Linked DNA regions of Homo sapiens: region 2 is linked to region 1. The links come from fine-mapping of genetic effects on gene expression. Tissue or cell type: unexposed skin. Region 1 holds a variant in brackets; the other region holds the start of a gene. All regions are shown on one strand. Distances are between the middles of the regions.

Region 1 (7,990 bases):
TGCTTCCCAGGGTCTACGGCAATGCTGGTCACGTAGCAGGTGCCCAGTAAGCATGTGCTCAACACAGGAATGGGTGAATTATGCTGTGAGAATCACCTCTTGTGTTGAGGGAGTCAGGGAAGGGGGAAGGAGGGCGGCAGATGAGGCATGGGGAGGGGGCGTGGCTATAGCTGGGGAGCAGGGGAGGCAGATGTCTGGTTAGCTTTCAGATTGCAGCCCAGAATTAGGGTCTTCACTCACCTTTCCCCTCCAGATGTTGGGAGTAGGGATGACTCACCCCACAAGTGTCTTTACCACCTGTCCAGAGCCCAGCACACAACATGAACTCTGTCACCTTCTCAGAGTAAGCTCTAGCACACATGTCATTGGACAGGAGATGGAGGCTCACACACTGAAGACTCCTGGGGCGCAAGACTATGGGTCAGAGAAAAACTGGGCTGTGGCCGGACCCCACCTGGTTCTTTGGCCCCACTTCCCTCAGACCCAGGCATCTGGGCTCCCAGCTACACCATCTGGCCCAGGCGTACACTCCTCTGGTTCGATGCTGCCCCAGCCTGAGGCGTAGCAGGTGGTCCCCAGTGCTGGCTCCTGGGTGGGCAGGCCCAGGACCTTCACAACATCTGTGATCTTGGCAGGCTCTGACAGGCGGAGCAGCATGAGGTCATGGCTGGAGTCTTCATCTGGTCTAAGGCTTTGATGCTTCAGAAGGCTCATATTGTAGAGCGGGTGTGGGAAGCTGTGGCTGACAGGGACCCTCTGGCCTGTGTCTTCAGGCTCAAACAGGTTGTGCCGACCCAGCCAGACCTGGCTATTCCTGGGGAGGAAGGGGGTGGATGCATGAGGAGAGAGAAAATGGGGAAAGGTAGATGGGGCAGGGGAGGATAAGGGAGACTCCAAAGGGAAGAAAAAGAAACAGTGAGAAAAGCACAGGGGTCGGGGAGATATAGTCGTGGTGAAATACAGACAGTGAGTTAGAAAACAGGAGTGTGATCATGTGAGAGGCAGAGACAGAAACTGAAAGAAACGAAGTGGAAAAGAGAGAGCATAAAATGGCAGAGGAATGACAAAAACAGAAGGGAGAACAGTGAGAATTAGGATGAGCAAAGAAGAGACAGAGACAGCAAGAAATAGACATGGGGAAGAGGAAGGGAGAAAGAACAGAACCAGGAAGGGAGTGAGAAATAGACAAATGAGAAAAGGATGCGGGAAGTCAGAGAGAGAAGGAGAAACAGCAGAGAGGAAGCCAGGGGTGATACAGTGTGGGAGAGAAAAAGGAGGGAGGCCACGGGGGCATCTGAGGAGTGTGGAGTAGCAGGGGGAGGAGGAGAGGCATGAGGGTGGCTCACCTGCAGCTGGGGCTGGAGTGAGGGCTCTGTAGTGGCGGGTGGCCCGGCCCACAGCTCAGGGCCACGTCCCCCTTTCTCTCTCCAGCTCCCTTCCCCTCCTTTCGATTTTTTTTGTTGTTTGTTTGTTTGTTTGTTTTTTCTGAGATGGAGTCTTGCTCTGTCACCCAGGCTGGAGTGCAGTGGCACGATCTCGGCTCACTGCAACCTCTCCCTCCCGGGTTCAAGCGATTCTCCTGCCTCAGCCTCCCTAGTAATTGGGATTACAGGCGCGCAGCACCACGCCTGGCTACTTTTTGTATTTTTAGTAGAGACGGGGTTTTGCCATGTTGGCCAGGCTGGTTTCAAACTCCTGACCTCAGATGATCCACCCACCTCGGCCTCCCAAAGTGCTGGGATTACAGGCGTGGGCCACCGTGCCCGGCCACCTTCCCCTCCTTTCTTGTTTCCCCTTCTCCTTCCTCCCTCCTCAATTGTGCACCCAGCTACAGCTGAAACCAGCCCTCCCTGTGTCTCCCCAGGGTGGAGGGATGTCCTGCAGAGAGTGCTGTGCAATGACAGGCACCCCCTCACATGCACACACATTGAGCTTAAAGTCCTTCCTTTTTCTGGGTGCTCCCCACCCACCCTCACGGGGTGTGTTCAGTAGTGATGAGGAAGGGCTGAGGCAGAGACCCAGAGAGAAAGACAGGCAAAGAGATGCAGGGTGAGACACACGGTGACAGAGATGGCCACAGAGAGACCCAGAGACAGAGACGGGGGAGACACAGACACAGGGAGACAGAAAAGAGAGAGGGACATAGAGACCAAAACACAGTCATACAGACACAACCAGAGCCAGATACCAAGAGACACAGCGAGATCAGACACAGAGAGAAACCCAGGCAGCCATGGGGAGAGTGGTCCAGCCCCAGCTCTGCCTCCGGGTGCGACCTGGGCCAGGACCTTCCCTCTCTCCTTTAGTCTGAAGCCTCACCTGAGAAGTGACCCTGGGGGAAGCATCCCGCTGTTATTCCTGTGGGACACAGCCATTCCCTCCCCAGATCCCAGGGTCCTACTTACTTCTTTAGGCAATGGGCAGCTGTGAGCACCCACTGGGGGTGCACCAGGACACCCCCACAGTGTGCCCATCCATGACTGTACACAGCCACCTGCCAGGGTTGGGAATGCTTCTCACACTCCCAGCCTCCCACAATCCGAGACTGGATGAGGGGCACGGCACCTGCGGAGGGGGTGCTGGGTCAGGGGGATCAGACCCAAAAGAATTGGATAGGGGAGGGAGCTGAGCTGTGGGTTTGAAGAGACATGGGGGCAGAGGACCAGGACTGGGAGTCCAGGACACAAGCAAGGGGTCCTGGGAGGGCTGGCAATTCTGTAGCTATTCCCTGCGTTAGCGGGTTGGTGGCTGGACCAGGTCGGGAGGCTTCATGCTCTGAGAACGGAGCTGACCCCAGAGATCAGAGTAGGGGACATGGGAAACATCTGAAGCAGGCATCGGGTTGGGGGTTGGGTCATTTGGAGTGATTTGGGGTCTTACACTGGGAGAAGGGACACTGTGGTGGCAGCTGTGGGTTCTAAGAGAATAAGAGGTTCCAGAAACCAAGGATAAGTGCCCAGTGGAGAGGTTTAGTTGCTGGGAGAGGAAGGTTTTGGATGGTTTACCATGTCCAAGGTTAAGCAAACAGTTCTGCCTGAGTTGTTTCTTGCTTTGTTTTGTTTTGTTTTGTTTTTGAGGTTTTGAAAAGGGTGCGGATTTAGGGAATCAGAGAACTGGCCGTTGTGGTTGGGGGTGCTCGTGTTTTTCCCATGGAAAAAGCTAGCCATTGAATGACGGGTCTGGGGCAAAGAGTCAGGGAAGGAGGAGTTCTGAAAGTCCCAGTGCCAGACTCAGGGTGGGAGGCAGCATTTGTTGTCTCAGGCCAGATAGCCTCGGGGGGAAGAAGGAAGTGTCTGGTGGAATCTGGGTTTCCTGGGACAGGGTTGGGGAGCCAGGTGTCAAGGTCCAGGGGACAGGGTTGAATGCTCACAGCTGAATAGGAAAAGTCAGTAGACTGTGGTAGGACTGAGGGGCTCAGGAGGCAGCCCAGTGATAGGGTCCAAGGAACCAGTGGCATGGAGAGAGGTCCTTGAAAGGTTTTGAACCCCATAAAGAGAAACACAGAGATGCCCAGGAACTTGCTCTTTAGTAAAGCAGCTGGGAGCAGGGATTTGGCTGGGCAATGGAGAGAAAGGTCTGAGGTAAGTGGGAGGGAGCGGGGACCTAGTGTGGGCATGAGGACTATTGCAATGTGGAAGAGTCAGGGGCACATTGTCTGGGCTGAACTGTGGGCTGAAGGGACGAGGCTGGGGCACTGGGTGGGAGGAAAAGGGCTTCAGCATAAGAGTCAGAACCCGCCCCCCTTCCTTTATCCCCCCAATCTCACCAGTGCACCCCACAGACAAGGCGATGGAGAGAACCAGGTCCCACATGCTGACACAGGTGTCCACGGCCAGGTGGTGAGTTTGGGGCTGGGGGGCCTCCCTGAGGAGCCCTATAAAGCCTTCATTCTCCAGGACCCCGCCCTTGCCCTGTTGGCACCTAGATGCTGACCAAGGCCCTCCCCATGCTGCTGGAGGCTGGACAACCCCCTCCCACACCCAGAGCTGTGGAAGGGGAGGGAGAGCCAGCACTTGCTGTTCCACACATACTAGA[T/C]CAGTCTGGAGGCATTCCCACGGTGTGAGGTCAGATTGGGCAGGGCCTATGGATCATGGAGATGTGATCTAGGGAACAAAGCCAGAGAAGGCAGGCTCAGGATGAACAGCAACAGGGGTTGGGATGATCACTGATTCTTTTTTAAAAAAATTCTGAGACAGTCTCACTCTGTTTCCCAGGCTGGAGTGCAGCGGCGTGATCGCAGCTCCCTGTAGCCTTGAACTCCCAGACTCAACCGATTCTCCTGTCTCAGCCTCCAGGATAGCTGAGACCACAAGCATGCACCACCACATCCAGCTAATTTTTAATTTTTTTGTAGAGAGAGGGTCTGGCTATGTTGCCTAGGCTGGTCTCCAACTCCTGGGCTCAAGCCATCCTCCCACTTCGGTCTCCCAAAGTGATGAGATTACAGGCGTGAGCCACCACGGCCAGCCCCAATCATTGATTTTCAATACAAAGTCTCATGTGCCTAAGTCCCAAGTACTTCCTTTGCACCCCAAACCTAATATGCCCTGAAATATCAGAATGATCGGATTGTGAGACTTCCTGGTCCCTATACCCGTCTGAGCCCAGAAGCTGGACCTCCAACTTACCATGTTCCTGAAATAGAAGCGTTGGCATTCAGTACTCTCTGATTCTTGCACTTCCACACTCAGAAAATGGTTCCCCACATACATTTCTCCCTCATCATAAAACCTTGTGATACCACATATTGTCCAATCCAGAAATATGACTCTCCCAGACCAAGTTCCCTATTATTTCAAAATCCAATGTCCACTAAACAATATGGGGTTCCGGTGGCTCCTCACTCCTCATTCTCCATGCCTGTACAACGTACAGGTACAGCGGGGATTCCTGTTGACCTGCCCTCCTAGGTCAGAATTGTCCTCATGCAAAATCCAATGCCTCCTTCTCACTGAAATGTCTAGCTATCAGGAGCCAGGTTTATACACTCCAAGATTAAGCTGCAAGCCAGGCACGGTGAGTGGCTCATGCCAGCAATCCCAGTGCTTTGGGAGTCCAAGGCTGAAGAATCACTTGAAGTCAGAAGTTCAAGATCAGCCAGGGCAACAAAGTGAGACCCTTTCTCTACAAAAAAAAAAAAAAAATTTAATTAGCCAGGTGTGGTGGCAAGCACCTGTAGCCCCATCTACTCAGGAGGCTGAAGCAGGAGGATCCCTTAAGTCCAGGAGGTCAAGGGTTCAGTGAGCTATGATCACACCACTGCGCTCCAGCCTGAGTGACAGAGCAAAAGACCCAGACTGTGTCTCAAAAAAAAAAAAAAAAAAAAAAAGAATTAGGGTGGCATTGAGAAATCTCATTTTGGTGTCTCAGAAAAGAATCAAGAATAAGAGTCCTGGTGTTAACTCTTATTATAAGAGTCCACTGTTAACTCTATAAGATTTCTTTGATTTTGAAAAAAAAAATGTGATTTCATCTGTTCAATAAAACCAGAGCAGCTTACGCTGATCCAGACCCAGCTGTGTCTCAAGAATTTGACAAAATCTTCCCCCATTTCCAGCTGAATGACCAGATCAATTCCAAGTACAGTGAAGGAGACAGAAGTGGACATAGATAATCACAATTCAAGACCAGGATAGAGGGATATTCACAGCCAGTGGCCTGATTTCCCCCACACAACCACTCGTTCCCTGGAATGACCGTCTGAAAGGAAATTTGCCTCAGCTTGAATGAGAACCACCTGAATCCAGTGTCCCAAGCATATCCTCATCCCCATGATAACCTCAACCAAAACCTGACCCAAACCAATTTAACACAGCCCAATCCAACCACATCACCCACAAGCCCAACCCATCAACCCAACACAACTTAATCTAATTCAAGACAACCCTAATAGCCTCCTTCATTTAAAGATCAAACCAAACTAATGCACATCCTCGCATGCAATAGCCAGCTCCATGTATTCTATCTCCAAAACTAAACCTACTTCATCCCCAATTCAATCCCCACACCCTTCCCAGCCAACATAAAAACAAACCTATTTCCATCCCAAAGCCATGCCATCCCAAACCACCTTTAAATTGCCAATCCCCAAACTCATCCGAAGCAGAATTTTACCCCATCTGTAACTCAACTCCAACCTGACCCTCCATTCTAACTGGTCTTCATACTCCGTTTTCAATGCTATATCCAGCACTTTATCTGGCCAAAGGAGATCAAACACAACCACATCCCACTTCTCGAGCCAGTCCACAGCCTCCTCCCCACCCGTCATGGCCCCCTCTGGGCTCTGACCACACAGGAGTCCGTGCCTTCACCCGCTCTTCCTGCACACACCATGGTGTTCATCAGGGCCCTGGGTAGTCCCTGTTACAAGATGTGGTACAGATGAAGCTGATGCTGGCACAGTGCCTCGTATCTGGGAGACTCACTTGGGAGGACAGTGGAGTGGGGCAAACCCGTAAGTTCAGGCTCCTGTGCCCTCCACCCAGAAGTCCTTGAGATTTCATGGACAGCGACATATGGCCATTCTCTAGCACCTTTCAGTCCTGGTTTCCTGTGGTTCTAGGATCTTTATCGGACACCAGGCCCCGGCCTGGCACCACGCAGGCCACATCCACCAGGGGACGCACGTCCACAGCTCCATGGTTGGGACGTGACGGGAGAGGCGCGCTGCAGGGATAGTCGCAGCTACATGACGTCATGGCGCCGGCCTCGCCCGCATAGTGCAGATGCTGAATGATGAGTGGATGATGCCCCAGGCCTCGGGACATGGCACATGTGCAGATTATACTCGCGCAGGCGCACTCTTGTGGAACTAGAAGAGTAGGTGATTACCCTCAAGTGGAGTAAGGAGTAGATGGAAAGATCAAAGCATGGGCAACTCTCAGTCCTCTGACCCTTTGAGAATCAGGAGATTCCATTACCTTCACACCAAACCCTGGAGCCAATGGTTCCAGTCCTTGCTTCCCAGGGACCCACCAAGGAGTCTCAAGCTAACAAACCCCTGCAACTCAACCCCTCACAATTTCAGCCCCTTCTTCCCGAGGATACGGGATTCTTAGACCTCTCAGGCCATTCCCACGTCAGTACCTCGGAAGCTGGGACCTTACCAGTCTCCTCCCTTGGGGATTTAAGAGTTCAGAACCCACATTCCTCCTCTCCAAGGACATTCACCTCCAGCCTCTTCCTCCTTCGGAACCAAGGAGTATGGGCCCCCTCTGCACTCAAGCCCAGAAGTTCTGATCCCCACCCATGTCCCCTCGAAATTCTGAGCACTCCCTTATTCTGGGGTTGGCAGTGGGGCACTGCCAAACATGGTGGGGAACTGGACCTAGAAATCTTGGTTAGGCACAGTGAAGCCAGATGTGGTAGACACACTAATGATGGGATGTTAAGACTGTCCTGCAGACAAGAGTGGAAGGCTCTGGGTGAACAGTGTTGGGAGACAATTTTCCATGGTTCTCTTATGTTTCTGTGTGTCTTCTGAGCAAAGGCAATAATACCGTTTTCTTTTCTGGACCATCTTTTCAAGCATATTTGTACAGCAGATAGCCTTGCAAGATGGTATCGCCTTCAGATCTAGGTTTGCTTACTGCCTTAGATAATAAAGTTAACGTCTATTTTACAGCAGATTTGTTTACTGTTCAGGACAATAAATACAATATGTTCCTCCAGAGTAGGTCTGCTTTCAACCCAATTATAAAGATAATATCTCCGTCAGATACAAAGACTGGACAAGTTTGCTGGTACCTTCTTATAAGATTGAGGATTTCTAAGCCTAGGTTGCTCACCTTTGCCACAAACCCCTGTGTCCATCCACCTGAACTGCTCTGATCATCCCATATGAATTGGGGGGCAAAGTGAACAAATGTGAACACAAAGTTCATGCTGCCTCCTTAGCTGTGGGTAATAAAATCTTTTGCCTCTGACCCAGGAGTCTCATGAGTTCTACCAGCACAAAACTGGCAGGTTAGCTTATGTGTTTGCAAGT
Region 2 (5,144 bases), 49 kb after region 1:
AATCCTGTGAGGTCAGAGCCTAGAGGGGCCATCAGGCGGAAGAAGAGGGATGGGGACAGGTGTGGGAGTCCGGATGGGGTTGGATTTTCTTTGCTTTGGGCCAGAGAAGATGCTAGGGTTAGGCTTGGAGATGGAGTAGGAAGAGAAGTTAGAATAGGGGTGAGGTTGGAGTTGGGGTTATAGGTGGGGATTGCGTTGTTTGAGGTGGATAATGTGATAGTTAGTTTGAGATGGCATGGGTTGGGGTTGAGAATGGGAATGGTTTGGTTTGATTCTGGGTGGGAAATACGTCAGGGTTGAATTGGGATGAGGTAGATTTTGTTTGGAATGCAGAAGACATGAAGATTGAGATTGGATTTTGAGATGGGCATGGGTTTGATTTGATTTTGAATGGTGAGGATGTGGGCTGAGTTGGATTTAACTTAGTACAGTTGCACTGGAGTTGCATGGGGGTGAGATTGGATATAGGTTGGGTGAGTTGTATTGAGCTGTGTTGAATTGGGGTTGGGGTTGGGGTTGGGTTGGCTCTGTTTGGGATAAACTGGGCTGTATTGAGTTGAGTTGGGTTGGGGTTCCCTGGGATGGGGATGGATTGGGTTTGGGGTGAGATTGCAAATGGTGATTAGGATGAGGATGAATCCAGGAGGTTTCACTCAACCTGAGACCCCCTCTTTTCCCCACAGGGTGACTCTGGGGGACCCCTGGTCTGTGGGGGCATCCTGCAGGGCATTGTGTCCTGGGGTGACGTCCCTTGTGACAACACCACCAAGCCTGGTGTCTATACCAAAGTCTGCCACTACTTGGAGTGGATCAGGGAAACCATGAAGAGGAACTGACTATTCTAGCCTATCTCCTGTGCCCCTGACTGAGCAGAAGCCCCCACAGCTGGCCAGCAGCCCCGCCTGACATGGAACAGAACGGAGCCATCCCCCAAGACCCTGTCCAAGGCCCAGATGTTAGCCAAGGACTTGTCCCACCTGAGGACAAAGCTGGCGCTCAAGGTCACCTGTTTAATGCCAAGATAACAAAGCGCTGATCCAAGTTGCTCTGTAGGAATTTCTGTGACTTTTTTCTGGGGTCAAAGAGAAACCCCGAGACACTGTACACTGTTCCTTTTCACCCACCACCCCGATCCCTAGGTGAGGAGAAGCGGCTTGAAGCAGGGCTCCATTCATTCAACACACATGACCACCCGTGTGATCTTGAACAAGAGGCCCAATCTCACTTCGCCTTGGTTTCCTTATCTGTAAAATGAGACCATCTTATTGCTGACTTCAAAGGGCTGTTGTGAGGATTAAATGAGATGATTCGTCTGAACTGATTAAAATCGTGTCTGGCACTGAGTAAATACCCTCTATCTCTGGATCCCAGTTAAAGGACCTAACAGACACTAGATTACCAAGAATGGCTTTTTCTTTAAGGTTTAGTTCTGGGCCGGGCATGGTGGCTCACACCTGTAATCCCAGCACTTTGGGAGGCCAAGGCGGGCGGCTCACTTGAGGTCAGGAGTGCAAGACCAGCCTGGCCAACATGGTGAAACCCCATCTCTACTAAAAATACTAAAAAAATTTAGCCGGGCGTGGTGGCACACGACTGTAATCCTAGCTACTTGGGAGGGTGATGTGGGAGGATCGCTTGAACTTAGGAGGCAGGAGTTGCAGTGAGCCGAGATCGCGCCACTGCACTCCAGCCTGGTGACAGAGCAAGACTCCATCTCAGAAAAAAAAAAAAAAAAAAAAAGATTTAGTTCTGGGCTTCCTGGTAGCCATGGCAAAAAGGCAAATACTGTCCTTTCCTTAGCCAGGTCCCTGATATACAGCAGAGGCTGGAACTCTGAGCTGCTTTGATTTTACCAAAAAGCCAAGACAACCTGTTGGAAGCCTATGGGTTTACCATTGAGGCTGCAGGAATCTAGTTCCTAATTATCTTCAGAGACCACAAAATGTGATGTTCAAGGTCGCTGAATGTTGAAGTACATGAACCTGGCTCGTGAGACCTAAATATTGTACTGGTGGTGGGGGGGAAGGGTCATTGGAATCTGTGGTTAGCCTGATCTTGACCTGGGAGGGAAGGTTGTCCAGATCTCTGGGACTTTGGAGGACAGGACGTTGAGCACCCATAACTGGGAGCAAGAAGTGGGAGGCTCATTGAGACCCCAGCATTGTTTGGGAGGGACACTGGATTTTGTAATGCTAAAGAACTTACCCTGGGAGACCCCTGAAACTTCACATTCCTGGATCTGGAGGCACTAGGAATGTGGTGATGTGTACCCCAAAATTTTATTATGAAAGGAACAGTAGCTTTGGGGACCTAGGTCCTGGGTCTGGGAGTGCAAGAACCAGGGCATTCTGAAGGCCAAGGCTTATATTTCAGGGGGAACTGGCAGCTGAGATGCTAGTATCTTGGCTCCGAGTGGTGCAGGGAATCAGAGCCCTAACTGCTGGTGTTTGAGGGCACCAGGTCTGGGGGTGCAGGGCCTTAATTGAGACTGAGGTATATGGGGCTTTGTACCAGGGGTCACTGATTCCTCCGTCTTCCTGTTTCTGCTTCCCCTCAGTCCCCCCTTGCCTCACTGGCTGCTCCCCAGAGCAAAGCCCCAGAGCCACAGGCCCTGCCCCACCTGGCTTCAACCCCAGGAATGCGTCCAGCGTGATCCAGGGCCTGCAGAACAGGTGCTGGTTCTCCCTCCCCGTCTACAGCTCTGGGGATCGGAGGGGGGGGGGGCAATTGTCCAGCCCCCAGGCAACAGGGGAAGGGCCTTGGCCAACATCTGGGTGCCAGCAGGGCAGGGGTGGGGCTCTGAGGGGATAAGGGCTTTTAAAAGCCTCCCCAGGGAGGTTCCCCAGTTCCTCCACCTGCTGGCCCCTGGACACCTCTGTCACCATGTGGTTCCTGGTTCTGTGCCTCGCCCTGTCCCTGGGGGGGACTGGTGAGACAGTGGGGGGATGTGGGAGGGGGAACGGGCCCTGATTCTCTTGCTGGCCTCACATCCCCCCCCGATAAGACCTTCCCCTCCAACACCCCACCCTCATCCCTCTGGCCCACAGTCTATCCTAGTCCGGGGTGCCCCGGCTCTTATCTATCTTGCGCGGCCCCACCCTAAACTTCCACCCCCGCTCCTCCATGTTGTCATAGTGCTCACTCCCACACCAGATTCCTGCTCCTCCCAGGAAGCCTCAGTACTTTCTCCTCTTCCCTAGCCAACGCCCTGTCCCACCGCTTTACCAAAGGGGCAGATTCTGGGCCATCTCTGTCTCTCTCTGGAGGACCCCAACCCTCCCATGGGCTTCCCCCACCCCACAGGACTCTGATCATCCCCTCCTGCCCCCTAGTTCCCTGCGGCCACCTATTTGGCTCCTGAGTCTACAAATCCCACCACACTCCAGTGACTTTTTCCATCCAGCTGTCCGCTCTCAACTGTGTCCTCCAGACCCTGACATCTGGTCTCCCCAGTCCTTCCAGGGTCCCCCAAATTTCACCAGAAAACCCTGCTTCCCAAACTGGCATGTGGGATCCCCCATCTGGTATGGGGGGGGGTCTGCAAATGTCCCTTCCCACCCAGCACCCCCAGCTCTCCCAGGAAAAACACCACACCCTCCCACCACATGCTCCTTTCCTTGGGGAAGTTCCATCCCGCCCCAGGCCCCAGCCCTTCTCTGCCTGAATTGTTCCTACACAGCTCTGGTTTTCTGGAACCCCACCCCAAGGATCCTGAATGCCTTCTCAGCCAGCGCTTCTGCCCTGGCCTCCCCCAAGTCAGTATGTGATTCTACAACCTCACGTCAAGTGGGTCCTGCATTGCATTCCCACAGCTGCTTGGCGCCTGTTCTCACCACTTCTCCAATCCTCTTCCTAGGATTGCCTCCAAGAGGACCCCATATCCTTCCAGTACCCTCAGACCATGAACCCCATCCCCATGAGAAACGAAGATCCCATCCTTCACCCTGTCCGAGAAGGACTGCCACTCACGCCTCCCTCCTCCTGAGCCCCGTCCCAGTCCTGACCGCAACTGTGTTCTCAGGGCCCCAACCTCCCCTCAGATTGCCATTCCTGGTTCACAGGAAGGACCCCAAAACCTCTCGGAAGCCCACCTCTAGCCTTAACCATAGCCCTTTCTTTTACCCTTTAACCAGGAAGCCCTGAAATCTAACTGTCCCAGCCAAGCTGGCCCCTTCCAACCCCAATGTAGGGACCCCAAGTCACCCCCAAACTCTTCAGTCCAGATGCTCTTCTTTACCTCTCAGACCTGGTTCCCTAAAGCTGCATCCTTTCCTGAACCTCAAAAGCCCAACCCAGGTCCTGTTTCCCTAGCCTAGGAGCCCCTTAGCCCTCCAGATTCTTCCTCAGTGAGCCTCTGATCCTGTCCCACCCTTGGCGCCTTGATCCCTGGTTTCCAGAATCCCTTTCCACTCCCCTAACCCACCACCTCCCATCCCCCAGCCCCAGACCCCAAATGACCTGACGCCCAGATGCAGTGTCTGCTCCAGACACTGTCTCCTGTCTCCTACCCTGATCCCTGGAGGCTGCTCTACTGTCAGAGCACAAAATCTCCCCACCAGGTCCAGCCACCACTCCAAAAGCCCAGGGAACAGTCCAGAGTCCCACCCCTTCCCAACACCCCTTGCCCATGTCCCCAACCTCCAGCCCTGGTCCTCTACCCGCAATGTCCCTTCAGACCCACAGCCCAGCTCCCTCTCCTAGCCTTGTCCCTGGCCTCTCCTGCCAACCCTGCCCTTCCTGACCCAGCACCGCCTCTGCAGGTGCTGCGCCCCCGATTCAGTCCCGGATTGTGGGAGGCTGGGAGTGTGAGCAGCATTCCCAGCCCTGGCAGGCGGCTCTGTACCATTTCAGCACTTTCCAGTGTGGGGGCATCCTGGTGCACCGCCAGTGGGTGCTCACAGCTGCTCATTGCATCAGCGAGTGAGTAGGGGCCTGGGGTCTGGGAGGAGGGCATCTATGCTGCCACAGGATTGACAGGCCAGTGGCATTCCCCTTGGATAACCTCAGGCAAGACTGGGGGGCTGAGGCAGAGAGGAAGGCTCTGGCGCAGGTCGCCTGGCAGGGCAGAGCTGGGCTGGACACCCCTCTCCAAGGCTGCCTGGGTCTCTTGGGATCTGGTTCTGCTTGTGTCTCTGTGTGACTGT

What was found. PIP is the estimated chance that this variant, and not a neighbour inherited with it, causes the effect.
Region 2: it holds the start of KLK1, and the variant in region 1 is the best candidate, but not a certain one, in a credible set for the expression of KLK1 in unexposed skin (GTEx, PIP 0.62).

Annotation. Positions count from the first base shown.
Region 1 is chr19:50,869,296-50,877,285 of GRCh38, reverse strand. It overlaps KLK2 (kallikrein related peptidase 2), which reads right to left and starts at 3,847. Exons shown (of 5, transcript NM_005551.5): 1 at 3,767-3,847; 2 at 2,406-2,565; 3 at 528-814; 4 at 278-414. The coding sequence starts at 3,812. RefSeq lists cis regulatory regions at 4,009-4,023, 7,651-7,673, enhancers at 4,009-4,023, 6,499-6,793, 7,651-7,673, 7,434-7,990, 7,402-7,990 and 2 more and promoters at 3,822-4,175, 3,822-4,447, 3,822-7,990. The variant T/C (reference allele first, on the strand shown) is at 4,036.
Region 2 is chr19:50,821,488-50,826,631 of GRCh38, reverse strand. KLK1 (kallikrein 1) reads left to right here and starts at 2,845. Exons shown (of 5, transcript NM_002257.4): 1 at 2,845-2,929; 2 at 4,761-4,920. The coding sequence starts at 2,884. It overlaps KLK15 (kallikrein related peptidase 15), which reads left to right. Exons shown (of 6, transcript NM_017509.4): 5 at 1-11; 6 at 684-1,343. The coding sequence ends at 836.